Linked DNA regions of Homo sapiens. The protein of the gene in region 3 purifies or fractionates together with the protein of the main gene of each other region. This does not show direct contact. Each region holds a gene or a part of one and is shown on either strand. Other genes may lie near its edges. The genes, in order: MYO1G, DSTN, SVIL, MYCBP2, PAXIP1, MYH2 and WDR47.

Region 1 (4,656 bases), on a different chromosome or scaffold from region 3:
TGTGGGCACTGAGAGCCTCAGAATCACTGTCTAGTTCTTGGACTGCTAGAAAGGTCAGTGCCAAATCTTGGCTCCAACTGCAGCACCTATGAAGGCTCAGGGAATGGATTTTTTTTTTTTTTTTTTGAGAAATAGTCTCACTCTCTTGCCCAGGCTGGAGTGCAGTGGTGCGATCTCAGTTCGCCACAACCTCTACCTCCCAGGTTCAAGCAGTTCTTGTGCCTCAGCCTCCCGAGCAACTGGCATTACAGGCACGCGTCATCGTGCCCGGATAATTTTTATATTTTTAGTACAGATGAGGTTTTGCCATGTTGGCCAGGCTGGTCTCGAACTCTTGGCCTCAGGTGATCCACCCACTTTGGCCTCCCAAAGTGCTGGGGTTACAGGCATGAGCGACCTCATGGGTGTAGATTTTGCGAACAGATAAAGGTAGATGATATTGGGCTGCTTTGTTGTCATCATCTATTCTATTCCCTCTCCTTGAGAAGTTCTCATGAAACACTTATACCTTGATGTGAGTCACCTTAAATCGTTTTGGGATGCGGCAAGCAACACATAAGTTAATAGCCATCATGACAACCCCTGAAGACACCTGGGCTTTGGCACTGGGAGCGTGGTCCAAGTATGGTAGCGAGGCCTCACCTGGGAGCTTGTTAGAAATGCAGAATCTTGGCCCCCCTGCACCTTCCACTCCCTCCCCACCCCCACATCACCAGCCTGAAGCCCCCCACCCCACAGATGCTGGTATAGGGTTGGGCCCAGACATGAGACGTGGGTATTTTTTAAAGGCTCCCAGAAGAATGCAGCCATGGTTAACCACTATCCTCAAACCCTGTTTCCTGCTCTTCACTTGTGAATCTGCTGTCCGGCATGTTTCAGTGTCTTAAAGGGGTGGGGGTGGCAGAAGTGGCCATAACACCTGTCTCCGAGCCACTCCCCTGAAGCGCTCCTGCCCCATGACACATGCCATGGTGCCTGTGGGAAAGCCAGGGATGTGGGTGGGAGGGGGCCCTTACGTGACGTCCCCTGCATAGTGCTTGATCCGGAAGTCTCGGCCAAACTCCATGGTCTTGTCTGTGGGGCAGAGCTATGGGGACAGGCTGAGGTCAAGGCACAAAAGGTATGTGGAGGGTCTGTATGAAGGGATAGCCCTGCCTCCCCACCTCCAGGGCAGAGAAGGTTGCCACAGTGACGACAATGGCACCAAAGCTGGGTCCCCAACCAGGCCCCACGAGGCATGGGCAGCATGGTGCCTGTGGGGCAGGTCCCACCAGCCCACTGTGGTGGCACTGGGACAGCCGGGGGCACCTGGCGGCTGGTGTAGTGTAGGTGATGGCGGTGGTGCATGTCCAGGGTCTGCAGGAAGATTCGGTCAGTGATGGTGCCAGCAGAGCTGCAGGCCTCGTCCAGCACGGCCAGGATGCCACGGTGGGGCCGCTCCACCAGATCCACAATGGTGGCGTTGTTGAAATACTCAACCTGGGGCAAAGGCAGCCAGCAAGGAAGCTCCCAAGGTCTTTCAGGCCACCTCCCCTCCTCCGCCCCACACTCAGCCACCTGTCAGGCCAGCCCGGGCCCCTCCCCATGGGCTGAGGCCCCTCCACACCCCACTGCCTGGCCTCCCTCCAGGCCACAGTGCTCACGCTCTGCCAGGTGATGCCCTCGCGCTCGTACTCTTCCTGTTCCTGCTTCAGGATGAGCTGGATGAATAGCTGCTGCAGCTTCTCGTTGCAGTAGTTGATGCAGAACTGCTCGAAACTGGGGGTGGGGTGGGCCTTTCAGAGGGGAGGTCGCTGCTTGTGGAGTGCATGGTAATGGGTGGCTGCTCCCCTGAACATCTCTGCTAATGTTCATTGAGGGTTCTGGTGCCAGCACCCTGTGTGGCTTCCCTGTGGCTTATGCATCCCTGCCCTGGACTCCTTTACCCCACCCACACCTCCTGCATGCACGTTCTGGAGTGGACTTGGGAGTCACAACCAGGAATTACTCATGCCCCGTAATTCTGCCTTCCATCAGGACATCAATGGTCAGAGGGTGCAGGTGAGGCAGGTTTGGGAGGCATGAGCCTTGGGCCCAGGGACCAGCCGGGAGAAACCCCAACATTCCTGCTGCCCAGCCCCAGCCGAGCTTTCCAGAACTAAGTGGGCAAAGCTGCTGGGTGTCAGAGGTGGAGATGTGGCTGGCCAGCCACCCACCTGTTGACGGGAAACACCTCGAAGCCATAGATGTCCAGCACGCCAATGACTGTGTCCTTGCCATCACGCCGAGGATCCCGGCCCCGGGGTTCCATGACACTGTTGATCCTGTTCACCACCCACTCAAACAGCCGCTGGTACACTGCCTGGGGGATAGGAACACCCTGCTTCCTGCTGCCTCTGGCCTGGCCTCCCCCATGAAGGCCTCCTGGGCTTCCCTCCCTGTGCCTGCCCCCAAAGTACCTTGGCACAGGCATCCCGGGCATAGCTGGCCTCAGCTGCAGTGTGGCCCTTCTCTATGAGTTCCCTGCCTCCCGAGGCAACTGTGCGAGCCAGCAGGGAGCGGAGCACGAGGTCCCGGGGTGTGGCCGTCAGCTCAGCCACATGGTCCACCAGTGCCTCCTCGGCCACTGCCAGGCCCTCCTTCTGCAGCCCACCCTCCTCCGTCTCCACAAACTCGATGTTTCCCTGGTGATGGGAAAACCATGAACAGTCCGGGCTCCATGTCTCAAAAGAGCCTGGACAACTTTGGACAAGAAGGAGGAAGGAAAGCAGGGGACATGGATGCGGTAGAGTACAGCTCCTTCTCAGACCAGCATGGTCAGCTGCTCACCATGGGCACAGACACAGCCAGAGACTGGGGGAAGGGGGCATGGGCACACCAGAGTCTCTGCCAAGGCCTCGAGGCCTCGAGTCCAAATGACATGTGAATGACCCCATCGCATCCTCCCACAGCCAGCGGAGCCCTGCACTACTTACTCCTCATGCCGCTTAGAGAGAACTGAGGCCAAGAGGCACTGAGTAAATGCAACCAAAGCCACACAGCTCATGACTGCACTAAGAGGCAGTCTGCATGATGCTCAGCTTTTACTGCGCCTGGCTGACCTGGCCCTAAGAATGGGGTCTGGACCATGTATCAACTGAGCTCATCACTCGAGCAGCTCAGCTTCTGCAGGAGAGGCAGTCAGCCTAGCACATTGCTGGGGCATCTCCAGCCAGTCTCCTCCTCATCCCTGGGTGCTTCCCAGCCAGGAAACCCTTGTGGGGAAGTAGCCCTCCCAGGCTTCTGAGCCAGGCTCACCAGGTGCAATATGGCAGCCAGGATGCGATGCACAGACTCCACCTCTTCAGGACTGAAGCCGATGACCCTCATGGCCTCGGTCACTGCCTGGTGGCTCTGCTCATCACTGTCCAAGGCCTAGGGTAGAAGGGATTCATCACTCCAAAGCCACACTGGGCCCAGGACACCTGTCTCCCTTGAGGCTTGATTCCTCCATCCTAGGCACCTGCTCACCCCTGTCCCCTGTCCCCTTCCTGAACCTGATTACTCCAGCCTAAGCACCTGCTCACCCCTGCACTCTGTCCCCTCCATCAGCCATTTTCACTCCACCCCGAGCACCCTCCCCACTCACGCAAACAGTTCACTTCACCCTGGCCTGTGCTGAGTGCTGCCCATTCCCTACCACCACACTCAGGCCCTGACACTGAGCCCAGTTTGAGCCCTTGGTGCCCCTCACACTCACACTGTGCACAGTCATGTTGAGTCCTGCTCCCTGGTGTGTGAAATTGTATACAGCAGGGTTTCTCTCCAAGTGCAGTTCATGCAGCTGCTTGTCCTCACTGCCTCTCAGCAACTAGAGGACACAGGCATCCTTTAGACAAATAAGCTCCCAGGATGTCCCCCTGTACACACACACAGGCAGGAGAACAAACAGACTTGCGCTTCCTTCCAGTATTGAACGAACAAACGTGGGGGAAGGTCAGACAGTGTGAACAGTTTCTGTGTGCCAGCAAGCTCCCCATTCAGCTGTTCAGTGGGTCAGGGAGCTCCACTTCAGTGGGAGCTATGACTCCACCATGAAGTCACTGTTCTTGTGCCAGACCTCATCTTGGTAGGGAGCTCAGTCCCTGTGGAGACATTGCCCTCGACCCAGGGGGATCCCACCTCAGTGGGTAGCTCAGAGTATGTGGAGACACTACCCGGGTCCCAAAACCTCCCACTGAGTGAGGAGGTAAGAGTTTGTGGACAAACTGCAGAATCCTAGGGAGCTCCACTTCAGTGGGAGCTCAGAGTTACTGGAGACCCTGCCCCTGTCCCAGGAAGCTCCCACCTCAGTAGGGAGCACAGGTTCCGTGGAGACATTGCTCTCCACCCAGGGAGAGCCCATGTCCTAGGGAGCTCAGCGTCTGTGGAGACACAACTGGTGCCACATGAACTCCCACCTCAGCAGGGAGCTCAGAGTCCATGGAGACACTGCCTGTGTCCCAAAAGTTCCCACTTCACTGGAGGTGGTAAGAGTCTGTGGAGATCCTGCTGTTATTCCAGAGAGCTCCACTTCAGTGGGAGCTTAGAGTCTGTGGAGACCCTGCCCTGTGTCCCAAGGGGCTCCCACTAGTGGGAAGCTCAGATTCCACAGAGACAATGGTCATGTCGCAGAGAGCTTCCACCTCATAGGGGAAT
Region 2 (4,656 bases), on a different chromosome or scaffold from region 3:
AGAATTTTCCATATGTTGGTGTTCAAAAAGTTTGGGATTTTAGAGAATTTTGGATTTTTAGATTAGGGATGCTCCACCTGTACATGAAAATAGCAACAGAAAAGTTGTGAAACCATTTTAAAATAAACACTAATTACATTTACAAGCTATTTTCTGAAAGCAAGCCAAGATAGAAACAAGGGTAGGAAATTCATCCTTGCTTTCCTGTGAGAAGGCAAACAGAAATAACAACCTATGAAGTAATGTAAAAATGTTCAAAGGAGTAAACAATCTTCCTTTGATGTGATCCAAAAGCACAAACACAATGACAAATGACCTTCCAGGTGTAGAATGAACTTAAGTTTCTATCTTTCAAGCACTCATCTATGCCGTGCTGCAACAGACGTTCTCAGTCTTTTCACACCTTCAATTAGAGATTACTTTGTTAATTTTAAAACTTTAATTGCATTTTTTACTGAAATCAATTGCTTTTAAAAAATCTACGTATGATGTGAGGGCGATCTGGCTGCAACATCTGTCACCCCATTGATCACCAGGGTTGATTCGGCTGATCTGGCTGGCTAGGCAGGTGTCCCCTTCCTCCCTCACCACTCCATGTGCATCCCTCTCAAAGCTATGCACTCGGTCAAAGAGGATGACCATTCCTGATAGAGGAGAACCGGTCTTTGGTCAAGGTTATATGAGCAGCTGCGCTCCCCTGCTAGAACCTCCAAACAAAAAATCTACGTAAAACATAACAAAGCAAAACATGGAATAGTGTTGGCAGCATGTAAGTATTACAGTATCAGCTTCTAGAAGACTAATCTTGGAGCTAAGAATCACTCTAAATATTCAACTCAATGGGGGTCTTAGTACAGCAGATTCAATGATGAATATAACATTTTGGCCCAAAGTATTACTGAGATGAATAAAACCGATGTTTATTTGTCTAAGTCTATGCCTCTCCCAATTGTAAAATTTCAAGAAAAATGAGCAGGAGGTAATTCAGAAGCACAATTCCAAGTGAAAACTTCTCACTTCCAACATCAATGAAAGGAGGCATGAACAGAAGAAAAGTTGTGGTTACAATATTGCTGAAGTGTTAGGTGTAAATCTTTGTGTATGACTTTCATGGACAATCTAGACAGAAATGTTATGCCACAAGAGAAGTAAACTCAAGATACTTTCACGGCTGGGCGCAGTGGCTCATGCCTGTAATCCCAGCACTTTGAGAGGCCAAAGTGGGTGGATCACTTGAGCCCAGGAGTTCAAGACCAGCCTGTGCAAACATGGTGAAACCCCATCTTTATAAACCCCGTCTTTATATATAAATTTATATTTATAAATCCCATCTTTATATATGTAAAGCTTTTAAAATACAAAGCTTAGCTGGGAGTGGTTGTGCCTGCCTATATATAGTCCCAGCTACTCAGGAGGCTGAGGTAGAGGACTGACTGAGCCTGAGGGTGGACGATGCAGTGAGTTGTGTTCACGCCCCTGCACTCCAGCCTAGGTTAACAGAATGAGACCCTGTCTCCAAAAAAAAAAAAAAATGCTTTCACAATATTCTACTTATTTATTATGCTCTGTGGTTTACATATGCAAATGACAGTACAACAAAGAGACTAGCTCTAGTTACTCAGAGACTAGAGTGTTGTTCTGTGGACAAAATCAACGCATTTGTATGTTAAATTCAGTTTTTCAAGACTTGCAAGTTTTTTTTCAAATTTCAAATGTAGTGTGCTTCATCTCAAATATTACTGAAAGAAAATATAAAGTTACATTAACATAAAAACTCAAAAATTTGAAGTCTTCCTGTATACTAAGTTAAACACAATTTTGATTTAAACAAATTCTATTTATGAAAAATAGTCACTAGGCACAATGGCTCATGCCTGTAATCCCAACACTTTGGGAGGCCAAAGCGGGAAGATTGTTTGAGACCAGTCTGGGCAATGTAGCAAAATCTCATTTCTACAAAAAATTTTAAAAAGTTAGCTGGGTGTGGTGGTGCACATCTGTAGTCCCAGCTACTCCGCAGGCTGAGGTGGGAGGATCATTTGAGCCCAGGAGATCAAGGCTGCAGTTGAGCTCCAGCCTGGGTGGCTGCAAGAGAGTCTGTCTCAAAAAAAAAAAAAAAAAAAAAACAAAAGAAAAGAAAAGAAAAAGAAAAGAAAGAAAAAAGAAAGGAAAAAAAGGAAAGGAAAGGAGAAAGAAAAGAAAGTCAGTCATGTTTACTTGTTTTGCATGTTTGTTTTTTAGACTTTTAATTTTTTTTTTTTTTTTTTTTTTGAGACTGAGTCTCGCTCTGTCACCCAGGCTGGAGTGCAATGGTGCGATCTTAGCTCACTACAACCTCCGCCTCCTGGGTTTAAGCGATTCTCCTGCCTCAGCCTCCTGAGTAGCTGGGATTACAGGCACGTGCCACCACGCCCAGCTATAGACTTTTAATTTTTTAGAGAAGTTTTAGGTACACAGCAAATTTTAGCAGAAGTGCATTGTTCCCATATATCTACTGTGTGTGCTTTTACATTTTGGCTAGAAGAACTGCCAGGAAAGAGAGGGGTAAGTGTAAAGTGAAGGACATTAATCTCCACAGCCCTTGGCAAAGAAGGAAAGAACTCTGTCCTAAGTCACTCTACATTCTACCACTACCAGGGGCCTAAAAATGGCAGGTGGATAGAATTAACAGAGAGTATTGAACTTCTGGTAATTAGCTGGCTAAGGGGCCTGGAAAGAAATTTATGTGCCAGAAAAGAGAAATATTACTCCTCAGTATGAGGTTCTGGTATTGATAATCATGTTCTTGTTTTTTGAGACAGGGTCTCCCGCTGTGGCCAGGCTGGAGTGCAGTAGTACAATCATAGCTCACAGAAGCCTCTAACACCCAGGCTCAAGCAATACTCCCACCTCAGTCCCCCAAATAGCTAGGAGTATAGGCACATGCCAGCATGCCCAGTTAATTTTTATTTAATTTTTTTGTTCAGACAAGGTCTCACTATATTGTCCAGGCTGGTCTCCAACTCCTGGCTTCAAGCAATCCTCCTGCCTCAACCTCCCAACGTGCTGGGATGACAGGTATAGGCCACTGTATCCAGCTGATTTTTTTTTTTTTTTTTTTACTGCTACATTTACTTTATGGCTCTGCAAATAAGCTTAGGTGAAGATGGTAAGTATTTACAGAATGGCCAGGTTTGCAGGATGCAGCATGCGTGTAAAAACCTAAGATGCAATAAACATATGAAAAGAGTCAGCTCACTAGTAATCAAAGAAATGCAAAATAAAATAATGAGAAACCATTTCACAACCATCAGACTGGCAAAGGTTTCAAGTCTCTTATTAAGTGGTGAAAGGCAATGTAGAAACAAGCTGTTAATGATGAGATACAACCAGAACGAACCAGTAGTAGAGTAGAAAATATGTATGCTCCAATCCAGGGCTTCCGCTTCTAGATATACACCATGGAGAGATACACACTGGGGCTAGAGAAGTAATATATAGCAATATATGACATGGAAATTGCCTATTATAAAAACTTTAAATAGACCAAAAAAAGGCAAAAAATTAGGAAATGGCTGAATGTCTATCAACAGGGGAATGGATAAACTTGCACAATCATACAAAAGAACACAATTCAGCAGTTGAAGAACCAAAGCTACAAATAAATCCAAAAGCTGCCCTCCCCTGGGAAAAAAAAAACCACCCCCACAAAGTTTAATTTTTTCTCACAGAGCTGCAAAAGGATACATGAAGCACAGTATTTACGTAAGTTTTAAAAGCACATCAAGGCAATACATATGAATGATTAAGTAGCTAAAAGTATGGAACTATCAATGAATATCAATTTCAGGTGACTACTGTGAACTTTACCTGAGCTCTGTGTTCTCAGAAAGCAGTGATGGTTAATCCACCCCACCGTTTTGTGTTCTGGGAAACAGGTAACTGCAAAGAACTGGCCTGTTGCATATTTTCAAATAAGGCAATCAGGAATGCTCTCCTAATTGCAATAGCCTGAATAAAATCATCTCCTTAACCAGCCAGGATATTATGTCTTTGACACAGGAATGGTTATAACTCTAGGGAGGGAAGGGAGTGGGATGAGGAAGATGATGCATATTTAGCTGTAATGATAACATAAAAACCTGAAATATGGCAATAAGATAGCCCTGTTTTTCCTGTACAAAAGGATCTGTTATTCTGTGTACTTTTCTGCTTAAAATGTTTCAAAATTATTATTTTAAAACTTGGAGTTGGAAAAGGTGATTTGTCTCAAGTCAATTAATCCTTTACAATCTGTTTTCTCATATGTTAAATAGGCATGTGAATACATGCCCAACCTATTTCACTGGGTTGTAGTGTTTTTGCTAATCACCAAGTATTAGAATACTTGAATACTGCGCCAATTAGTTCAGTCTGTGAGACCACAGTCCAGATTAGGATAAGGTTAAGGGTTAGATTATCGTGCAAACCTTTTAACTCTACTTCAGGGGCAAGACTACACTCTTACTTTCCAAGAAGCATAAAAGATACTCTGGTTACAAGAGGAGCTAGGCAAGTCTAGGTGTGATGTCTCAATCCATATCCAGTAGAACTACTGAGCAAATAACCTTAGTAACTTGATGATGGGCTACTAAACAATCTCTGTATAAGGAGGCTGGCACACCCAGTACACACACA
Region 3 (4,656 bases):
TCCTGAGTAGTGGAGACTACATGCATGCAGCACCATGCCTCGCTAATTTTTTTTTTCTTTTTGTAGAGATAGGGTCTCATCATGTGGCCCAGGCTGGTCTTCAACCTCCGGGCTCAAGCAGTCCTTCCTCCTCAGCCTCCCAAAGCACTGGGATTACAGGCATGAGCCACCACTCCCGGTGGCAGTTTTGCTTTTTAAGGCCCATTTCTCTGTAAGAGAGCCATGAGCTCACCTCACTGCTAAGCAATCGCGTGCAGGGCAGGAACGCCACTGACCTGTCTGCAGTGAGATGTGCGCTCCAGTGTTGATTGTGCTCTTTGGAGATATGCGGTGCTAACAGCCCCTTGAGTGGCACATGCATTATCCCTTCCACTCTTAGCACAGCCCTGCCAGTATCCAGAAGGGCCAGGGCCTTGAGCTGGGGCAAAGGGAGGAGGACCTGGAGGACGAGGAATGAAAAAGACCAACTCCTTGACACCACTTCTCTCTGCCTACAGGCTTCTCCCCGTTGAACTGTCAAAGGGCTGGGGTATCCTGGGTTTCTCTGTTTGCCCCTTTGCCCCTGGTTTGATGGCCAAGGGGGTTTCCCCCTGTGACACTGCAGTCAAGAGGGACAACATCCACTAGGTTGGGGGAGGAGTGAGCTAGAAGTGTCCGTGAAGGAGCTCCTGATGGTCTGGCCCTGTCCCTGCCCTCACAGCACTTTTCCTTGTTGACAATCACCACGAGGTGTACCTCTGGCAAGGCTGGTGGCCCATCGAGAACAAGATCACTGGTTCCGCCCGCATCCGCTGGGCCTCCGACCGGAAGAGTGCGATGGAGACTGTGCTCCAGTACTGCAAAGGTGAGGCTCCCTCTAACATGCCTGCAGCACGGAACAGATGGGGAAGCCCCTCAGGCATGCGCAGCCAGGAGACCCCCTTCCCCTTCTGTGCATGTCAGCCAGCATCCATCCATAAAGCCTGGCAGGTGGTGATGAAACCAATTTTTTCCCCTTTAACTTTTTGAGATGTATTAAGTTTTAGATTAGCGCATTCTCAGCTGCCAGCATGAAGAAGAACTAGTTTTTCTCTCTGATATTATGAGGCTAACTTGTTACCCTCAAGGATAAAGGCTGTATTGTGGAATGCCCCAGGCAGATTAAAACCCCGCTGTACTCGGGGTTGATCATGCTGAGAGACAAGTTGGCCTCTGCCCTGTACATTATCTGCAAGCACTACCACGCTGTTGGAGAATGGAGGTCTCCCCCAAACAGTGAACGGCCATTGCCAACCTTTTTATTATTCATTATTATTTTTAGTATTATATCCAAAGAGAAATACCCATAGTAAGTTCATGGTTCTTTACTATACACATGAAATTTCTAGTCTTTTATATAAAATGAAAATGCCAGTAATTAATCTTATTTAATTTTTATGGTTTCATTGACACAACTAGTTTAATGTCACTGAGTATGTGCAATGGATTCTCTTCCTGAAAAACTCTTTAGCAATAAATAACATATGAAACCTTCCACTCAATGTTATAGTGAATGTGGATGTATAAGATGCTGTCGTTCGCCGTCAGTCATTATGGGAGTTAATCCTGTGCTAGGAAATGAGACGGATGACTCTACAGGTGAATTCAGGAGGAAGAAAATGCTCCACCCAGAAGCTGCAGACAGAGCCTCTCTCTCCCTTCCAGGAATACACAGCGTTTTGTTAGGTTCAAGAAGTATAGACTCAGGTTGATTATAGGTCACTATGGTAGTCACAGGCATGAAACTAACAAACATCTTATATAAACATTATCCATGTGTTGTTATGAACTACTGGTAACTTGCATTTTAAGCATGAAGTCATGAGTTCTGGCAAAGAAGAAAAGATTTCAAGGGAAATCAGAGAAAGACAGGGTCTCCCTGGGGTCTACTGACATTGCAATCTGTGTAACTACAGGAAAAAATCTCAAGAAACCAGCCCCCAAGTCTTACCTTATCCACGCTGGTCTGGAGCCCCTGACATTCACCAATATGTTTCCCAGCTGGGAGCACAGAGAGGACATCGCTGAGATCACAGAGATGGTGAGCACGCTTTCCTGCCCTATGAAGGTGGCTCCTGCGCCTTTTGGATTGTGGGTTAACTTTACTTTGGGGAGAGCATCCAATTGCACTTTCAGAGTGGGAAAATATTTTTCCTTTTGCAACATCTTAACAAACCTACATAGAATTTGCTTAGGAAGAAGAGAAGTCTAATGGAAAATCAATTAACTATTTTAGTAATTTTCTACACGATACCCAAATTTTAAAAACTTAAAAGCAAAGGTGAGTTGAATCATGTTGAGGACTATATATGTACATAAAAGCTGCGAACTCTTCATTCTGTTTGCTAAGAACCTGTTGCTTGGCATTGCTTGTCTCTCAGTGTCCATGTGACGCACAACCAAACCCTCATGTTTCAGATGTTAACCTTGTGTAGAGGAGACACAAACGAAATCTGATGAATTAGTATGTTCAGAAAACTGAATGAATGGAGGTGCTGCGACTCCCTTATGATAAGGGATCACTCAACATCTCATTAATATTGTCTTTTATGAGACCACCTGGTATTTCTGCATGAGGCATTTATCATAACTTCTATCCACCAAAATATATTATAATCTAGAATGTTTTCTTTTCCAACCACACAGGAAAGAATTTTATTATAGCTATGTTGAATTTCTTATATATGAGCTATTAACATTGCTAGGAATAGCAAATCCAAGGATTTGTTTTGATTTGGTGAGAGATAGGTTTTTTACCATTTTGATTTTTTTTTACCATGTGAGAGCTGCTTTGCTTGGGGAAACGACCCAAGTGTATTTTATAGGAAATTCGAGTAATTTTAAACAAACAGAATCTACTTCTGCTTAGCAATGGAGAGGGCCTGTTGGGTAGTACAGACATCACTGCTCACCCTAACCTGTCTCCCTGGAGCCAAATGGACTTGATGTACACAGGGAAGGGGCTGACTTCAGCTTGGTGTCTGCCGCAGCCGGAACGAGATGTTTCTGTTCACTGCAACTGTGGTTTCGTGAAACCAGAAGGCTCTAGGGATTACGAGCTCTATGGCTGCTGCATGCAGTCTAAGTTCAGGAGTTACCAAATTGCCAGGGGTTCAGTCCAGGGCTTATTGCTCACTACACAGAAGAAAGCCAATCACTGAGACAAGCATAGCCAAGGAAGAAAGTTTATTTGGGTGCTACAGCCAAGGGGAACAGGACATAAGTCTCAAATCTGTGTCTCTGGCCTACTAAAATTAGGGATTTTTATAGCAGGGAAGAAATGTAACCATGTGTGGGAAACAGGAATTAGGGAGGGGTGAGGAAGAGGAGCTGGTCAACAGGAAGCGGGGGGTTGGTTAGGCATCATGGTGGGTAAGGGGTCTGGTAAGCTTCAGGTTTTGTTTTTGTTTTTTGAGACAGGGTCTTGCTCTGTTGCCCAGGCTGGAGTGCAGTGGTGTAATCACAGCTCACTGCAGCCTCCAGCTCCAGGCTCAGACAATCCTCCCACATCAGCCTCCCAGGTAGCTGGGACTACAAGCACACACCATAATGCCTGGCTAATTTGTTTTGTATTTTCAATGAGGTTTTGCCATGTCTCTCAGTCTGGTCTTGAACTCCTGAGCTCAAGCCATCTGCCCACCTCAGCCTCTCAAAGTGCTGGGATTACAAGCATGAGCCACTGCTGGCTTTTTGATACTATTGGAGATGCCTGATGGTTGGTTTCCTGAGAAAGGAACTCAGATAAGACAAATATAACTTTCTCGAATTTCAAGACTAGGAGAGTTAATTTCGACGTTTATTCCAAAGAAATCATAAACATCAGTTCTGTGGCACAGTTGAGCCACTTTCAGAAGGATATAACTCACCATCCTCCCTGTGTATTCACTATAGATCTTGGGGGTTAGCAGCGGGGCCATTTACTGTTGTGCAGGCCTGTGGGATTCCAGCCGGAGAAGAGTCAGGCTTCCCACACCAGCAAGTTATACAAATAATTAACATTCAGCAAGTGCCCACTCTGCACTAGGCACATCTCCAAGCACTTTACACTGATTTTCTCATTTATCACAACAGTCCATCAAGATATCTTATTATTATTCCCATTTTACTGGTGTGGGAGCAGAGACACAAAAACACGAAGTCACTTGGCCAAAGTGACTTTCAGTGAGTGGAGGAGTCAGTACTCAGACGCAGGCAAGATCATCCAAAATTCGCCTCTTCTTTTTTTAGAGAAAGGATCTTGCTTTGTCACCCAGGCTGCAGTGTGGTGACTCAATCATGGCTCACACAAACCTTGAACCCCTGGGCTCAAACGACCCTACCACCTCAGCCACCCCAAGTAGGTAGGACTACAGGTGCACACTTCCATGCCTAGCCTATTTTTGTATTCTTTATAGAGACAGGGTCTCATCATATTGCCCAAGCTGGTCTCCAACTCCTGGATTCAAGGACTCTTCCCACCTCAGCCTCCTACAGTGTTGAGATTACAGGCACAAGTCACTGCACCCAGCCCAAAACCTGCCTCTTGACCACCAGTCTGTTCCATGTATTTCTAATATGAGCAACAGCTCTTAGTCATGCATTCCCACCATCCACCCACCCAAAAGGAGAGCAGCCAATCTGGGGTCCCAAGTTTAATGG
Region 4 (4,656 bases), on a different chromosome or scaffold from region 3:
CTTGGTGCTCTGCTACCCTTAAAATTAAGTTTTGGGTTGAAGCCTTAGATTTTTCCTCTTACTGTATATGTGTTTCTTTACATGATGCTAAATAAATTTCCTTTTACATTTTGCCCCCAATTATCTTCCACCTTGCATCATCTTTCTCCAATCTATCAATGTTATTTACCAAAAGCCATCTGATGATTGTCCTCATAATTAATTTCTCTGAACTTCTCAAAAGCCTAGTGCACTCACCAGTGCATTCCCTTCAACAGGAATAGCATTCCAACTCACCACCAGTGAAAGTTTTAAGTTGCATAGCTACAGTGCATGCCAAGCGTTATCAGTATTAGTGCTCCATCTAGCACCAGAATCGATTCTCATTGCCAGCCAGCCAGCCAATAATCCAGCTTCAAAACCTCACTGTAAAGTCTACTTTCTGAGACCACTCCTGGCACCAACTGCTTTGGGTAGGAGGGTTCCCAGGAAACAGACTCTCAAATGCAGATGTGCACACCGGAAGTTTATTGCGGAGTGCCCTCCGAACCAACAACTGTGGGGCAGTGAAAGACGTAAGACTGAACAGAGGAAGGAGTTGATCTGCAATGCAGTCCCAGGAAGCCCTCAGCCAGACCCATGGGAGAGCTCTCTGGTGTTGGGATAGACTTCAAGGTTGGCTTGTCTTATAGCAAAAGCGCTAGGCATTTATATCCCTACACTGTATAGATATTAGATGTAAACTGCCCCTGAAGAGGAGGCATGACTCTGGGGGAGGCAACTCTTGGCTCAGGGCAATGCGTGGAGTGGGACTCAGCTGCAATCAGTTTTAGCTGCCAATATTGCCAAGAGCTAGGGGAACATGTGCCTGAAAGCGGGATCTGAAAGCCTAACCACAGCACCTGCCACACCACCACTGGACTATTACACCAATTTGGCTAATGAGGGAAGAGAATTAAGCATTTATGCTGCTGGATTAGGAGAAACTACATTTCACTGACAGTCAGTGAAGGCCAACTCTTCTTTGCAGAAGAGTACCAGCTAATAAACATAGAAGAAATAACAGAATTATTTTTTAATTCATCATTTTGCAACCCCTAATGAAATTATTGACTCAGACAAGGATTATCAAAGAATGCTAAAAGCATTAGGTAAAAGGCATTCACAATGTGCTCAAATTTTTACCCTGTGATTACTTGTTCTTTACAAATGGAAAAAGCATACATTTACAGAGATGAAATCTAGTAGGTACCGTCTTACCCAAGTAATCAGATTTAACATATTAAATAGTGAGACAACCTCACAACCTCTGGATGGGATGCAACATGCAGTACCCAGCGCCATATACAATATTCTTGCTAAAAAATTTTCTAATGAACACCTAATAAACCCTTAAGGTCTAGCTTCCACTTACAGGAAATACAGATACAAGACAGAAAGATGAACAATACCTGGGGGCCCTGCCCTTAAGGAGCTAGATTTATATGACATTCTAGAAAAGGTAAAATATTAGTGACAGAAAACTGATTTGCAGCGGTCAGTAACCAGGGGTAGGAGGGCCTGACAGAACTTTTTATATGAAGTGATGGAAACAGTCTATACTTGACTGTGGTGATAGTTTCAGGACTCTTCAAATGAACATTTAAAGAGGATGAATTTTATTGTATATAAATTAAACCTCAATTAACCTAACCCCTCCTCAGAAAACCTAAATGTTTAATCTGGTTTTTGAGAAAAAAGTGAGACTATTCTGTTGATTTTTTAAACAAATATATTAAAGGACAAAAGTATTTTTAGATTGACATTTTTATTTTCCTTTTAAGCCCAGAGGCAAGATTTTTTTCTTCTCTTGAGTTAGGAAACTAATTCATTTCACATTTCTACCTACCAGTATACCAATAGAGCAGTTTTTGCCTTAACTTGTGTTTATACACTATACAGGATTCCACTGATATAACAGCTACATGAAGAAAATTACTACCTATGCACAAATACAGATGTACACATACAGATTCAATCCCGCATTACTTCCTGACATATTCCTACAATAAATAACGTCTCTTCATAGCTTAAAACCATCAAGGGTGATCAGTGTCTACTGAATAAAATCTAATTCTTACCTTGGTCTTCAAGATGCCCCATCCTAGCCAAAGCCTCCATTTCCAGAATGAATTCCACTACTGTCCTTCATGACACCTGCATTCTAGCTCTAACAGAATTCCTACTGTTACCTACATACAAACTGTGCTTTCCTGTCTCTGCTGATGCTTTTAAGCCAGCCTAGAATGCCATGCCTTTGTCATAGTAGGTTATACTTTCTTGGTCATTTCATTTAACACTTCTATAAGTATCTGCCTTTGTATCTTGCACTTCCAGATAGACAGTAAACTCAAGTCTAGAATTTGTGTCTTATAAATTTTTATAGGGCCAATGGTTAGTGCCAAGTAATAATCCCTGAGCAAGCTGAGCATGGTGGCTCACACCCATAATCCCAGCACTTTGGGAGGTGGAGGTGGGAGGATCACTTAAGCTCAGGAGTTCAAGACCAGCCTGGACAACATGGTGAGACCCTGTGTCTACAAAAAATAAAAAACAAGCCAGGCATGGTGGTGCATGCCTGTAGTCCCAGCTACTGGAGGAGACTGAGGCAGGAAGATCACTTGAGCCCAAGAGGTTGAGGCTGCAGTGAGCTATGTTCACACCATTGCACTCCAGCCTGCCTCAAAATAAGTAAAATAAAATAATCCCTGAACTTTTGCTAAAATGACTACTTAACCTCTTACAACCAAAATCCCATGCATCTGAAGGATGGACTCAAATACCATTTCTAACAAGAAAGAGATAAAGCAGCTGAAAAAACTAAGGGGGTTAAGTTTAGATTCCCCATTTTGGTCACAATCCCCTCTATTGTTTTCACTAACATTGTTCTTCTAGGACTTCAGGACCCAGATACTCTGACTCCTCTTTATCTTCCAGTCTATCAGTTCCCTCTTGGCATCACTTTCCTTTTTACCATATAGTCAAACACTGTCCCCAAAACCTTCCATTTCTTTTTTCTTTAACCCTAAATCAACTCAACTAGGTTTTCTCCATTTCTATTTTGTGTGGAAAAACATACAGTGCCATGCTGGTTGGAATTTTAAATGTGATTTTAATAATAACAACAGGTAACATTTCATGGGCACTTACCAGGTGCGGACATAATGTCCTTTTGATAACACTACAAAGTTACAAGTAAAGAAACAGACAAAGTCTAATTAACTTGCCCAATTTAACACAAGTAGAAAAAGGTAGACGTGAACTAAGGGAGTCTACCTCCAGTGCTCTAACATTTAGCCACTGTGCTATGGTGCCTCCCAAGTGCATGGTTATACCACCATTCACATTCAGAACAGATCATACATTCCTTCATACATTTCCTGTCCAACCCCTTTCCCCAACAGAATGTTCCGATTTTGATTGGCCTCATTCATCCAAAAATATATCTATTCAGTCACTGGATAAATGAAAGAGTTATTCCCACATTCTACACAGTCACTGAGACCAAAAATAAAAGAGTAAGACATGATCCTTGCCTTCTCTTCAAGTCCCCACACCCCTCATTCTCAGCAAAAACAAACAGACAAAAAACAGTAACTAATATTTCATAGCAGTCAACATGCCAAGCACATACATTGATTCATTTAATCTACAAAACAATTCATGTTAGTATTATGATCCCCATTCTACATATTTAAAAAACTGAGGCATAGAAGTTATGTAATATACTCAAAGTTACACAGCTAGCAAATGACAAAACCAGGATGCAAAACCAGTCTAGCTTCTGTGCCCAAGCTCTTAACCACTTTGTTAGACTGTCATCAAAGTCACTGAGTCCATTAGGTTTGAAACTCTCAACTTCTCAACTGTACACCTAAAGCAAAGAGTAATTAATTCATTTGACATTGACTGATAACTCACTCATCATGTTTTTGTTTCTTGAACACAAGCCTGTTCCCATTTCAAGGCCTTTATAAATTCCCAGAACATTCTTCCTCTACATCTGCCTCCTCATCATGGCAATTCAATTTAAATGCCAACTCTCAAAGAGACATTTCCTGACCATGTTACCTAAAATAGCCCCACTACAAATTGCCCTATCACATGAAATAGGTTTTATTGCCTTCACAGTTACTTATTACTAAGTGAAATTATGAGTTGTCTATTTCTCCCATTGGAGTGGATTTTCCAAGACGGCAGAGACTTTGTCTATCTTGCTCACCGCTACATCTTCAGCATCTGCAATACTGCCTGGCACAGAGCAGGCACTTGATGTTTACAGAATTCATGCCAAAAAATGTGCTAGACATTGGGATTATCAAAACGAATAGGATATGATGCCTATCCTCAATAAACTCCCAGTCTTTATATTTACAAGTACTCACCTCCACCCCTTCTATATTAACTGCTCCTTTTTTCAATGGCTAACCTCTCCACCTGTCACCTTAACTCTATCCCTGAGATCCCTTTGACCTCTTCCTGTCCCTGAGATCCCTTTGACCTTTTCCTATCAATTATCCCCTCTCTCACTTCTTCACTCTGTCTCTCCATTTAGCCTCCCATATTTGCATATCCCACCCAACCTCCTATACTTGAATATCCTTCCCTCAACTTTGAAATCCCCTTGAGTTACCAAAA
Region 5 (4,656 bases), on a different chromosome or scaffold from region 3:
CAGTTTCCAATAAAATTCAATTAAAAAAAAAACTGACTAACTTGTAAATTTTTGAATAAGCTAGAAATAATTCCTTTTATTTTTATTTTTATTTTTCTGGAAAATTAAGTACATACCTCCAGATATTTTTTAATATGACTGATGGTACGTTACCAGAATGTTTGTAGGGTAATTCCTCGACTATGCAGCATTGTCTTGATCATTCTAGGACTTAGCATTCCCTCAACCATTTCCTTCCAGCCAGCTTTTGTGACAAATACAATAGGCTCTCACAAATTTCCAAAATTTCGGGGAGTGGTAACAGCTCTTCTTTAGTGTCACTGCGTTAGTTTCAGCCAAGATCACAGGATCAGAAATTGACAGTTGGACTTCATGCTCATGTCTGTCTGTTGTCTTTAAGGCAATAGTGTTTCATTCCTGTTGGATCCTGGTAGGCCATGCACCCTTCTATGGCGTGGTGTTCCCTGCCTCACCTCGCCTCTTCCCTGGTTCTTTCTAACTCACCCCTTGAAGGCTGAGAAGCACCAGTCTATAAAATGAACTGAAGGAACCATATATTCTGGCATAGTCTATTTATAAAACCAAAATGGTTATATTAATTATATTAATTATTATTTACATTATAATTAACATAATATAATTATGTTCTTGATTCACGATTATGTTATGTTTGTGGCTTATGTAACTCAATAACCACAAATATTTGAAAAATTAAATCCCTTTAAAAAGACTTAATTTTTATCATTCCTTTAAATTATTGTATTTTATAATCTATTCAGACATAAATTTGTAAACCTAATAGTGGTGAATTTAAATAGTTTCTTCTAATTTGTAAGTTTTATGAGTGCTAGAGACCAGCTGACTGTACACAAAAATAACATTTCTTTTTAAAGTAAATGTTTTTGTTTTCTTTAATGAGCACATAGCAAAAGCTTGTGCAAATGGCCTAATAAAACTACCTTTTATACTCTTGAAGTTTAAAAGTTTCAAATTAAGAAGAATGAAAGAATTTATAACTTAAAACCAACAGAAACGGGGTATGGTTATTAGTTGTTGGGGAGAGGGGACATGGTTGACCCTTGAGGTCCTTAGCCCTTAGTGAGTTAGAAGTTTTGAGGATACAAAATTTAGAATAATTTAGCTGATAAATTGGGTCAGGCAAAGGCATCTAAACATTGCTTTCCTCTTAAATCATCTTTGTTTAAACAGTTACTGTCTTTCAGTGATTAAAAACTACCTATCTTGTGAAAAGCGAGAGAAAACTTGAGTGAAATATAGTAAGGCTGTTTACCTAAGTGTTTTACTTAGATTTCCACAGGAAATAGTCAAGTTATTTCTGAAATGTGAAATGCCAGCATTCTATACAAACTAGGAACTCAAGAGCCTACTGGATCCCAGCCTTTTAAGTGTGAAATTATCTTTTTCATATCCAAAATTTTCAGTGACTCCTCTTCATGGCAGTAGTTTTGTTTTGTTTTTTGGTATTTGTTAAAACAATTAAAAATAACTTTTTTTCATATTTTACTATTTCAACAGATATCTTTTTAACTTGGAAAAATCATATGTAAACCATATTACATATAGTCATATGTTATTCAAGCAGATGATATTTTTGTATTAATTGGTTCATAAATATTCTGCTGTGTACCTGGACTTCATATTTTCCTAAAATAACTTGGGTTTTTCTGGAATGGGTAGTCCAGAAATTGAAAATCTCTAGTAGAAATTTATCATCTGGGGAGAGCTATATAACATTTTATGCTTTTAAATATTTAAGAACAGCATGATTTTTTAGGGTAAAGAATAAGACATTTTATTGTCGAGGGTATAGGTAAATTGATGTACTCTTACATAGCTGTTGGAAGTGTAATTGGAATAGCCTTTTTGGGAAGGGAAGTGTAGTTAGAGATATGAAGCCTTAAATCTATTCCTTTTCAAACCTCAACACCAAAACCTAGGAATTTGTCATAAAATATAACTGCAGTTTTTCATAGTAGTGAAACACTGGAAACAACCACGTGGCTAACACTGGGGGATGAACTAAGGTACACAGCTGTGCAACCGAAGAGGAAACTGTAAAAGCCTTTGAGACTACTGGGGAGATCTGAATAGGGCCTGAGGATGAGGTGAATCATAGTTCATTGTGCTGCTATGATAATTATGGTGGTTTAGAAAGTCTTTATCAATTTGAGATCCGTAAACAAAGTTCAGGAGAAGCAAGATTTGTAAAAGATTGCCAGTTATTAAAGCTGGGTGACAGATACAAGGGATTTATTCCACTAGTCTCTAATTTGGTCTGCGTTCGAAAATGTACATTAAAAAGTTTGGTCTGCGTTCGAAAATGTACATTAAAAAGTTTGGTCTGTGTTCGAAAATGTACATTAAAAAGTTAAAAACAAAAGCATAAAAGTATACATGTTTTCATAGGAAGAGGTTGTTCACAATATATTAAGTGAAAAAGGAACATTATAAAGTATTTGTTCACTATGACTATATGTTTTTTCCCTTTGCCCTTTTAATATATGTACATATATATTTATAACAAAAATAAATTTAAACTATACCCTAAAAATGTTAATCGTGGTCCTTTCTAGTCAGTGTGATTATGATTACATTCATTTTCCTTTGCTTAGCTTCTTATTCATGGGTGTCTCCCATGACTAGGTTTTTCTTATATTTTAAAAAGGTTTGAGAAAGAACAAACTCACAAACACAAGTTAAGTCACTGAGCTGTGTGCAGAGCTCACTATTTGCAAGGATCTCCCAGATGGGCAATGCCTGGCGTTCGCTGCCAGGACCGAATGACCAACAGCTGTCCTCTCTGTGCTGCTGCCCCGCATCCCTATTGCGTGTGACTCTTATTCCACCCAGAAATTGCAAATGCCACCTTGGGGCTCTGCAACAGGACACGGAGTTTAGTTTAGGGCCCTGATTATGTGTTTGCTAGAGAATTGCTGTTATGTGTTAAGCTTTTAGGAGCACAGCCAAATTTACAACTCATTTATTTTAAGGTTACTTTATTGTCATATTACTCTTATTTAACATTTTTTATTTATTTCCTCTTTCTTTGTTATTCCCTCCCCTGTGCCTTCCACATTCTACACCCTTTACCACAGGAGAGGTCTCTGTTAGCTTGCCGAACATACTACTCCGGACACATCTTTTCCAGTGGGCTGTATTTTCTGCTTTCATTCTAACTGTGCAAATTGTCATCATTTGTGCCCCAGCCAAAGCTCACCTTTCAACGGGGCTTTCCTCCTGCCCTCCAGCTTATGTTGATGAGATTCCCTTCCAGTCTGTTACTGCATCATTCAGCAGTGGTTTTATATTGTATTTGCATTCCGTATTTAATATCTCTTTAGAACCAAATTGTGAGCCTTGTTAGGTCAGAGACTTGTTGCATCCTTTGTGTCTCCATCCCTTAGTGCTGCTTGGCATATAGCATGAGCTCCATAAATACTGGATCTTGAATAGAGCTGTCCTATGCAAGTCAGCCAAGTCAGCCATGCTCCATGAGTGTACGTGATGCATTGGCGGCACTCTGCCACGCTGTTACTTTACTAACTGTCATGGAAAACCAAGCTTCTAAATATTATCAATCAGTAAAAACTTAGGTAGCAATTATTCATTTCATAATTTTCCATAGGATTACTAGCTCTACTTTTGTACTTAAAATATCATTTTAAAAAGTTAATTTTCAGCCAAGTCTTTTAAGACTCCTGCTACAGGTGTGAGACCTTCCTATGATCACTGCTGTATGGTTCCTTTTCACTTTTGCCTCATGTCCTCTGTCTAAAAGATCAAACGTTGCTTCTGTATAAAATTGTAATAATAGTTGCTCAACATTTCAACTGCATTCCTTGACTGAGTTTTTTCTAAAATGCGTAATTGTAGGAAATGTGATAAAATTTACAGCTTTGTTTTGTGTGTGTTTCTGCTTTCCTCGTAGGAGAAATACGAATGTGCTTTAAAGCGAGCAAGTATTAAAATTGTGACTCCTGACTGGGTTCTGGATTGCGTATCAGAGAAAACCAAAAAGGACGAAGCATTTTATCATCCTCGTCTGATTATTTATGAAGAGGAAGAAGAGGAAGAGGAAGAGGAGGAGGAAGTAGAAAATGAGGAACAAGATTCTCAGAATGAGGGTAGTACAGATGAGAAGTCAAGCCCTGCCAGCTCTCAAGAAGGGTCTCCTTCAGGTGACCAGCAGTTTTCACCTAAATCCAACACTGAAAAATCTAAAGGGGAATTAATGTTTGATGATTCTTCAGATTCATCACCGGAAAAACAGGAGAGAAATTTAAACTGGACCCCGGCCGAAGTCCCACAGTTAGCTGCAGCAAAACGCAGGCTGCCTCAGGGAAAGGAGCCTGGGTTGATTAACTTGTGTGCCAATGTCCCACCCGTCCCAGGTAACATTTTGCCCCCTGAGGTCCGGGGTAATTTAATGGCTGCTGGACAAAACCTCCAAAGTTCTGAAAGATCAGAAATGATAGCTACCTGGAGTCCAGCTGTACGGACACTGAGGAATATTACTAATAATGCTGACATTCAGCAGATGAACCGGCCATCAAATGTAGCACATGTAAGTCACTCTTTCCGAAAAAAATGTCAGTATTGGATCTTAGAATTGGATTTCACAGTCTATTTCAATGT
Region 6 (3,662 bases), on a different chromosome or scaffold from region 3:
TATTTGATGGGAAGTTACCATTTAGCTCTTCCTTTATTCTGTCGAGGAAGGTTATATTTTTGGCTATGCATCTCAGCTGCATCCAGTTTAAAAATCTTGATCCTCTAGGAAAACGTCTCTGAGTGGTCCAGATTGCTATGATATCTACTTTTTGTACCAAACTCATACCCATCATTATGTGTGTTGAATATAGATTTGAATAACCTACTTTGAGATCATATTTTCTTGACACTTTTAGTCATTTATTTTGGCTCTTTATATGATTATCTGGGAGACCATAAAGATTGGAAACATAAGCTAATAGCTCATGGATACTACATTATAACGTAAAAATAATATTCTCTATGTCTCCAGATTTGATAGACACCCTGTAGTTTTCATAGGGAGAAGAGTCATATTTAATTTAATTTTGAAACTTGCTTCGTGAAGAACAAGGTCGTGTCAAACCCATTACCCAGTGCACCTACTGTGGGCATATGGTACATTGGAATTGATAATGTAAATATCCATGGGCTAATTAAGAATATTTTGTATTTATATTCTTGATAACAGTTATTCAACAAAGAGAATTAATGATACAATTCAGTTTGAATCCCCTATGTGAGAATATAGCTAGTACTATCCTGAAAAAGGTTCATGTTAGGGGAAGCAGGAGCTTTCTAAGATTTTACTGTACTCAGATATCAGGAAAGGTTAGAAAGAAATAAAATAGACTTCCAAATTTCTGTTCATTAGAACAGTCTTTCTGGATAAGTGACATCTTTACAGCCTTAAAGTGTTGCCGTAGACCCCCAAAAAAGTCACCAATTGAATGTGATTGTTTGACAACTCTGGTGACTATTCAAACTTTGACATGGCTTCAGGAAAGAGAAAAGACAAGACCAGTCTAAGGATATTGTTTGCAAACTACCCTATGCTTTATTTCCTTTGCAACAGGGTAGAATACACAATAATTACAGAGGGAAATGACCAAAGATGTCACATTTTGTGCCTGTCTTCAGTCATTCCATGGCATCAGGACATGATCACTCTTCACTTATGACTTTTGTGTGAACCTCCCGGCTCTTCACCCGCAGTTTGTTCACCTGGGACTCAGCAATGTCAGCCCGTTCCTCGGCCTCCTCCAGCTCATGCTGGAGCTTGCGGAATTTAGCTAGATTGGTGTTGGATTGTTCCTCCTGAGAATAAAAATGGAATTGTAAGGAACTCATACTTGCATCTTTCTAGACTCTTTAGACCTAATAGAAGAAAGGACTTGGCATCTATGGAGAAGCAACATCTAGGGATTATCATTGAAATTAATTTTAAGATTTGTTTATTGATGTCATATATATATATATATATATACACACACACATACATACATACGTATCTCACATTCCTATTTTGGCAACCAAAACACATAAAATATATGTACCACAAGTAGAATAAGAAGAAAAATATAAGCTTAGAGAGGAAGGCAAGAATATTAAAGTCATAGTTGTTAATGCTTGCTATAAGATGATGATTTTCCCTTGAGTTAGATTTTTTTTATCATATTAAGAATGAACTTATTAAGTTTTTAAAAATTGAAATAAATATTGGATTTTGTCATGTATCATTTTGGCACATTTCAAAATGGTTACTTTTTTCCTCCTGCATTGGATGTAATGATTCTATTGACAGATAACCTAATATTAGGTAATCTTTACATTGTAAGAATTAACCTTATTTAATCACTGGAAGACAATTCCTTTAATAAAGTAAGACTTACTACTTAGTAATTTATCTTTGCTGTAACTGTCTTTATGAGTAAAATTGCCTTTAGTTTTTCTCCCTCTGTCCTCTCTTGGGCAGGTTTTGGTATGAGGGTTATGTGAGCTTCTTAAAATGAACTGGACAGCTTTCTATCTTTTCCCATGCTCTTGAACAGCTACATAGCTGGGGGATTATCTGTTCCTTGAAATTTTGAAAGACCTATCTGGACTTGGGTCCATTTCCAGAAGTAATTCAGCCAACTTAGTAATTTATATCCTCCTAGAAAAATCATCAATTTTTTTCAGGGTTTCAACTTTATTGATAGATGTGTTTTATATTAAAAAATAATCCTCTATGTATATAGCTTATTCCCTTTCTCATTTCTAATGTTGTTTATATTTTCTCTCTTATTTTCCTTGATGAAACTAGTTATAATACATTTATTTTATTAATTCCCCAGAAGTTACAAATATTACTGAAGTTATCAAATAGAAAATAGTATACTCTAATTCACCAATTTCTACTTTTATTTTTAACAGTACTTCTTACTTCTACTGTTTTATTATTATTTATAATTTATTTATTGGACTGTCTGTTTGTTTATTTTTACTTTTGGTTCATAATGAAAGCATTTAAAGCAATGAATTAGCCTCCTAGCACAGCTTTGACTACATTCTGTAGGTTTGTAAAAGTAGCATCTTCCTTGTGATTTTACTTATAATTAATAATTATTTAGTAATTATGTTTTTATTTTTACTTTAAACCAAGAGTTATTTAAGAAAGTTAGTTTTTTTAATATTTAAGTACTCAAGAATTTTTGCTTATATTTTGTCATCACTTTACAACTCCGTCATACTGTGGCCGGAGAATATGGCCTGTATTATTTCTGCTTTTAATTTTTTTCAGGATTCTTGGTGGATTGAAAGTTTACTTTTAAAATGAAGCTACTGATATTACAAATGATACACAAGAATTATTGTACAAAAACAAATGTTAAATATGCATGCAGTAGTCTTTAAAGCAAACAGCTTGTTCACTACAAGAAGTAGTAATTATTTATTAGCTTAATTTGAGGACTTCAATCTTAAAAATACTTACAGCCTCCTCAGCTTGTCTCTTATAAGATTTCACTTTTGCCTGAAGTTTATCTACCAAATCTTGAAGCCTGAGAATATTCTTTCTATCTTCTTCCGTCTGAAAGATTATAAAAAGTCCAGGACCTTAATTACTAAAGCACATGACTATTGCATCATTGCATATGAGTATTTCACATAAACTTCGACCAGTGCTTAGCCGCTAAAAACTACTGGCTGTACCTGGTAAGTGAGTTCCTTCACTCGCCTCTCATGTTTGCGCAGACCTTTGACAGCCTCAGCATTACGCTTTTGCTCACTCTCAACCTCTCCTTCCAGCTCCCGTACCTGCAAATAAGTAGGCTCTTAAGAACTTTGATCCAATAAGGCACTGAAAGCAGATGGAAATAGACAGATATTGGGAGACCCACCCTGGCCTCCAGTTTCTGGATCTGCTTCTTCCCACCCTTCAGGGCCAGCTGCTCAGCCTCATCCAGACGGAGCTGCAGATCCTTCACGGTCTGCTCCATGTTCTTCTTCATCCGCTCCAGGTGGGCGCTGGTGTCCTGCTCCTTCTTCAGCTCCTCAGCCATCATGGCGGCCTAAATAGCAAATAAATCAAGAAAACCAAGAAAGTTATAGATGTCAGGAAATCTTACTGCTAAATCAGTGGACAAGTGTGCCTGCCACTCACATCAGTGATGGCCTTCTTGGCCTTTTCTTCTGCATTGCGGGCTTCCTGGAGAATGTCCTCCATCTCTCCTTGCATTTGGGAAATATCTGTCTCCAGCTTCTTCTTGGTGTTGATCAGGCTGGTGTTCTGTTTAAAAAGAATTTGTACATTTAAAAAAT
Region 7 (4,351 bases), on a different chromosome or scaffold from region 3:
TTAATTTATAGTTTATAGTTTGAAACAAAAATAACAGCTCTGGCCAGGCACGGTGGCTCACGCCTGTAATTCCAGAATTTTGGGAGGCCAAGGCAGGCAGATCACTTGAGGTCAGGAGTTCAAGACCAGTCTGGCCAACATGGCGAAACCCCATCTCTACTAAAAATACAAAAATTAGCTGGGTGTGGTGGTGCGCACCTGTAATCCCAGCTACTTGGGAGGCTGAGGCGGGAGAATTGCTGGAGGTGGAGGTTGCAGTGAGCCTGAGATCGCACCACTACACTCCAGTCTGGGCGACAGAGCGAGACTCTTGTCTCAAAAAAAAGAAAAAAAGTAATAGCTCTTTCCCAAAACAAACCCCCTTCTTGCCTGGGGACTAGATTGCCTCCTTTGTAGGACTAACAAATTAGCCACAAGATTAGAAATTACAGTTTAGGAGTCATAGAGCTGGAGGCTACAAGATTCTGACCCTCCCCATATTGCTCCTGGGGATAACATCATTATTGTAAAACCTAAGATCAGAGATTGAGATATTTCCCAGACCCTGCACTTGATGGATCAGCTGACATCTGCCATATCAGTAAACTGGCTCATCTTGTGGCCCCCACCCAGGAACTGACTCAAGACAGATTTGACTCCCTATGATTTCATCTCCAACCCAACCCATCAGCACTCCCAATTTACTAGGAGTGAACCCCACCCACCAAATTATCCTTAAAAACTCTGATCCTGGAATGCTCAGGGAGAGTGATTTGAGTGATAAAACTCCAGTCTTCTGCACAGCTGGCTCTGCATGAATAACTCTTTCTCTATTGCAATTCCCTTGTCTTGAATAAATTGGCTCTATCTAGGCAGAGGGCATGGTGAACCTGTTGGGTGATTACCTAATTCGACATATTCATACTCTTGAGTTCAAATTTATACATATTGTTAGGCTTTTATTAGTCAACTTTCACAACATATTAAGGATAGAAAGTTCTCTAAATCTTGGATAAAAGAGACAGAAGACACACAAAAGTTATACAGGCCAGGCACAATGGCTCACGCCCATAATCCCAACACTTCAGGAGGTTGACTCAGGAGAATCACTTGAGGCCAAGAGTTCAAGACCAACCTGGACAAAGCAAGACCCCATTTTTAGAAAAATTATTTTTTTGTTAATAAGTTATACAGTTGCCAAGGATTAAAAAGCAAATTAGTAGAAGAACTTTAGAAAGAAATCTAAGAAACTGATTATGGACTTCATCCACTGGACCTCACTTTCTCCCAGTAAACTGAAAAAATAACATTATTTTGAAAGCCAAAGACTGAGGAACAGAAACAGTTTTAAATGTCAAGAGGTCTTTATTGAAATAATAGCACAGTTACACTTCTAATACCCTTTCCACTTGTATACAACAGATGAAAAATGCTTGCTACATACAGTGCACAGACAGTTCAATAATGAGAACTAATACAACTGCATTTGAAATAAATAAAATAGCCTATTTAAATAATTTAAAGTAAAATTACTGTACAATATGAAAATAAAGATACATAAATGTTAGAATCTACAAAGCTGTAGAAATAAAATCATTATTCTGCATTACACAAAACAGTGCAAGAAAAAAATCCAAATAAGCTTTTGGAGTGCAAAGTTTAAATCTTCCATTTTAAATTATCATGCAGACATAGCATTTCAAGCCATGCTATGGTCTATGTCAAGGATTTTAATTTTTAAGGAGAAAAATGCCAGTAAATTTACTGTACCATCAAGTGTTGCATCACATAACTGCTGCTGCTCTGCTTCTACAGTTCAGTTTGGAAGGGAGGTATCCTGTTGCATTCAAAAAACTGAAGTTAACAAGTTTCTGAAGCAAACACATTTACCTTTTAGCCTGAAACAAAATTATATGACAAAATAATCATATCCCTGGGTTTAAGAAAAAAGGGCCTATACCATGTAGTAAACTAAGAAGCAGTTTTTCATTCATCTTTAAACTCCACAATGATCCTTAAGTGAAAGCAACCATGTAACTTTTGAGTGACATATATTATGGAATTCTGACCTCTAGAAGACAAGTGATAATACAATATGGGATCGTGAGAAGAGCAAAAGTAATTCTGAACACCTGGGAAGTTTAATCTGGGAGGAACTTGGTTGCATTACATTTAATAATATAGTTGAAGTATAATTCCATTTCAATGTGCATATAAAACTGTTATTTAGGCAAAGACCAAGGAATGCATTGAATACTAAACCGTAAACACATTGTCCATCCTGACTTGGAGTGCACACCAACAACTGAAGAGCTCTTCTGCAGACTTTGGCAACGAGACTACATATAGCAGGTCACAGCAGCACGAGCTCACATGGAAGACTGAAAGCACTGCGGAATAACACCACCCAACACCTCCTATCAGTGGGATACATGGTAATAAGGGGCCTCTTCGTGCTAAACCACTTTCCTGGACACTATGTTCTTCAGATTTGTAATTTTCACAACTCAGTAGTCTTAAGTCTCTGTGCTTTTGCTGCATAGACTGACATGCGGTGTGCTCTACCCATTGTAAGTCCAGAGGGTGACAGTTCTATCTGCAGAGGATGACAGGAAGGAAAGATCCTGGGTGTGCCATCTGCACTGAATCACTTTGTCCTTGTGCTCCCCCACCACCATGATAGGAAGCTGCTTGGTGAGGTCCCCTAAATTACAAAAGAGATGTTGATTTACAATGCAAAATAAGTATATGTATAGATTGTATAGACTTCCTGTTACTTTAAGACATTACAGTATAAAAAATCTTAAACTACATTAATATAATACATTGAAAGGTTTATACAGGGATAAATTACTACCTACCTAATTATGCTATTAGTATTTGCTAACATATACCCATACAGCAACATTTGACAAGTTGCCTCTCTCTCTCTCTCGGAAATTCTCTCAACTTGATTTCTCCCTGATTTCAGTGCCACTTCATCTTTTGCTAGTTTCCCTTTTCTTCTTGACGTAAAGCTTGGTGAATCCCAGGAGTCAACCCTCAGATTTCTTCTGTTCTCTCTGTACCTAACTTCCTAAAAAATTTCATCTAGCAACATGGCCATTTATATATTTACAATTCATACATATTTTATCTCCAATCTTGGTTCTCATCTGAGCTCCAGACTAGTATCCAAATAGTCATTCAATATCTCACTTGTCTGATAGTCATCCTAATTTAAACTTGTCTAAAACCAAACTCTTGGTTTTCTTGCCTAAACCTGTTCCTCCCCTTACCTGCCTCCCTTATCTCAATGGCACCATCTGGTTGCTCATGACAAAAACCTAGGAATCGTCATTGATTCCTTTTCCCCTCACTCCTCAAAGCTGATCCAAACAAAATATATCTCAAATTTAGTCATTTCTTACTACCTCCACCTCCACCACCCTAGTCCAAGCCACCATCATCTCACCTGAACTATTCCAACAGCCTCCTCACTGACATTTATATTTCTACTCTTGCCCCCTTACAATCTACTCTCCCTACAGAACCCCAAATTCTCCAAAAATATAATTCAGCTCCTATCCCTTCCAGTTAAAATCTTCCAAAGGCTTCACATTATACTTTTTAAAATGCTTATAGCCCACCAACTATAATAAATGTACCACTGTGGAAGGGGATACTGATAATGGGGGAGGCAGGCTATGCATGTGTGAGTCAGGAGTATATGGGAAATCTCCGTATCTCTCAATTTTGCTGTTAACCTATAACTGCTATTAAAAATAAAGCCCTTAAAAAAAATGTCTATAGGCCGGGCGCGGTGGCTCACGCCTGTAATCCCAGCACTTTGGGAGGCCAAGGCAGGCAGATCACGAGGTCAGGAGATCAAGACCATCAAGATCAAGGCTAACATGGTGAAACTCTGTCTCTACTAAAAATACAAAAAATTAGCCAGGTGTGGTGGCGGGCGCCTGTAGTTCCAGCTACTTGGGAGGCTGAGGCAGGAGAATGGCATGAACTGGGAGGTGGAGCTTGCAGTGAGCCGACATTGCACCACTGCGCTCCAGCCTGGGCGACAGAGCGAGACTCTGTCTCAGAAAAAAAAAAAAAAAAAGTCTATAAAACCCTGCCTCTGATTTATTCTTCTGTGTCTCTCTCTCTTAGTTCACTAAGTTCCAGGCACATTGGCTTCCTGTAGTGTCATGAACGTGCTAAGCTGGTTCCTACTTCAGCATCTTTATACTTGCTGTGCTCTTCTCCTAATATCCTGGCCTGGCTTGTTCCTCCTCATCATTCTGGTCTCTATGCAAATGGCATTTCCTTGGAGAGACCTACTCCAATTATCCTATTTAAAATAGCCTTCCCCCTGCAGTGAGCCAAGATGCACCAC

Evidence for each region.
Region 1: the proteins of SVIL (region 3) and MYO1G purify together in Homo sapiens (affinity purification with mass spectrometry, with the first as the bait; one study listed by BioGRID). This does not show direct contact.
Region 2: the proteins of SVIL (region 3) and DSTN purify together in Homo sapiens (affinity purification with mass spectrometry; one large-scale study listed by BioGRID and IntAct). This does not show direct contact.
Region 4: the proteins of SVIL (region 3) and MYCBP2 purify together in Homo sapiens (affinity purification with mass spectrometry; one large-scale study listed by BioGRID and IntAct). This does not show direct contact.
Region 5: the proteins of SVIL (region 3) and PAXIP1 purify together in Homo sapiens (affinity purification with mass spectrometry; one large-scale study listed by BioGRID and IntAct). This does not show direct contact.
Region 6: the proteins of SVIL (region 3) and MYH2 purify together in Homo sapiens (affinity purification with mass spectrometry, with the first as the bait; one study listed by BioGRID). This does not show direct contact.
Region 7: the proteins of SVIL (region 3) and WDR47 purify together in Homo sapiens (affinity purification with mass spectrometry; one large-scale study listed by BioGRID and IntAct). This does not show direct contact.

What each region holds. Positions count from the first base shown.
Region 1 is NC_000007.14:44,968,397-44,973,052, forward strand, and holds part of MYO1G (unconventional myosin-Ig), read right to left. Parts: intron 3,830-4,656; coding exon 3,719-3,829; intron 3,394-3,718; coding exon 3,277-3,393; intron 2,664-3,276; coding exon 2,439-2,663; intron 2,342-2,438; coding exon 2,196-2,341; intron 1,759-2,195; coding exon 1,644-1,758; intron 1,480-1,643; coding exon 1,309-1,479; intron 1,088-1,308; coding exon 1,017-1,087; intron 1-1,016. UniProt on the Homo sapiens protein: Unconventional myosin required during immune response for detection of rare antigen-presenting cells by regulating T-cell migration. Unconventional myosins are actin-based motor molecules with ATPase activity and serve in intracellular movements.
Region 2 is NC_000020.11:17,572,341-17,576,996, reverse strand, and holds part of DSTN (destrin), read right to left. Parts: intron 1-4,656. UniProt on the Homo sapiens protein: Actin-depolymerizing protein. Severs actin filaments (F-actin) and binds to actin monomers (G-actin). Acts in a pH-independent manner.
Region 3 is NC_000010.11:29,459,680-29,464,335, reverse strand, and holds part of SVIL (supervillin), read left to right. Parts: intron 1-700; coding exon 701-844; intron 845-1,934; coding exon 1,935-2,059; intron 2,060-4,656.
Region 4 is NC_000013.11:77,319,439-77,324,094, forward strand, and holds part of MYCBP2 (E3 ubiquitin-protein ligase MYCBP2), read right to left. Parts: intron 1-4,656. UniProt on the Homo sapiens protein: Atypical E3 ubiquitin-protein ligase which specifically mediates ubiquitination of threonine and serine residues on target proteins, instead of ubiquitinating lysine residues.
Region 5 is NC_000007.14:154,975,625-154,980,280, reverse strand, and holds part of PAXIP1 (PAX-interacting protein 1), read left to right. Parts: intron 1-3,949; coding exon 3,950-4,585; intron 4,586-4,656.
Region 6 is NC_000017.11:10,520,255-10,523,916, forward strand, and holds the end of MYH2 (myosin-2), read right to left. Parts: intron 3,631-3,662; coding exon 3,505-3,630; intron 3,413-3,504; coding exon 3,242-3,412; intron 3,159-3,241; coding exon 3,054-3,158; intron 2,932-3,053; coding exon 2,836-2,931; intron 1,179-2,835; coding exon 1,026-1,178; 3' UTR 894-1,025; downstream 1-893. UniProt on the Homo sapiens protein: Myosins are actin-based motor molecules with ATPase activity essential for muscle contraction.
Region 7 is NC_000001.11:108,968,890-108,973,240, forward strand, and holds the end of WDR47 (WD repeat-containing protein 47), read right to left. Parts: intron 2,684-4,351; coding exon 2,541-2,683; 3' UTR 1,325-2,540; downstream 1-1,324.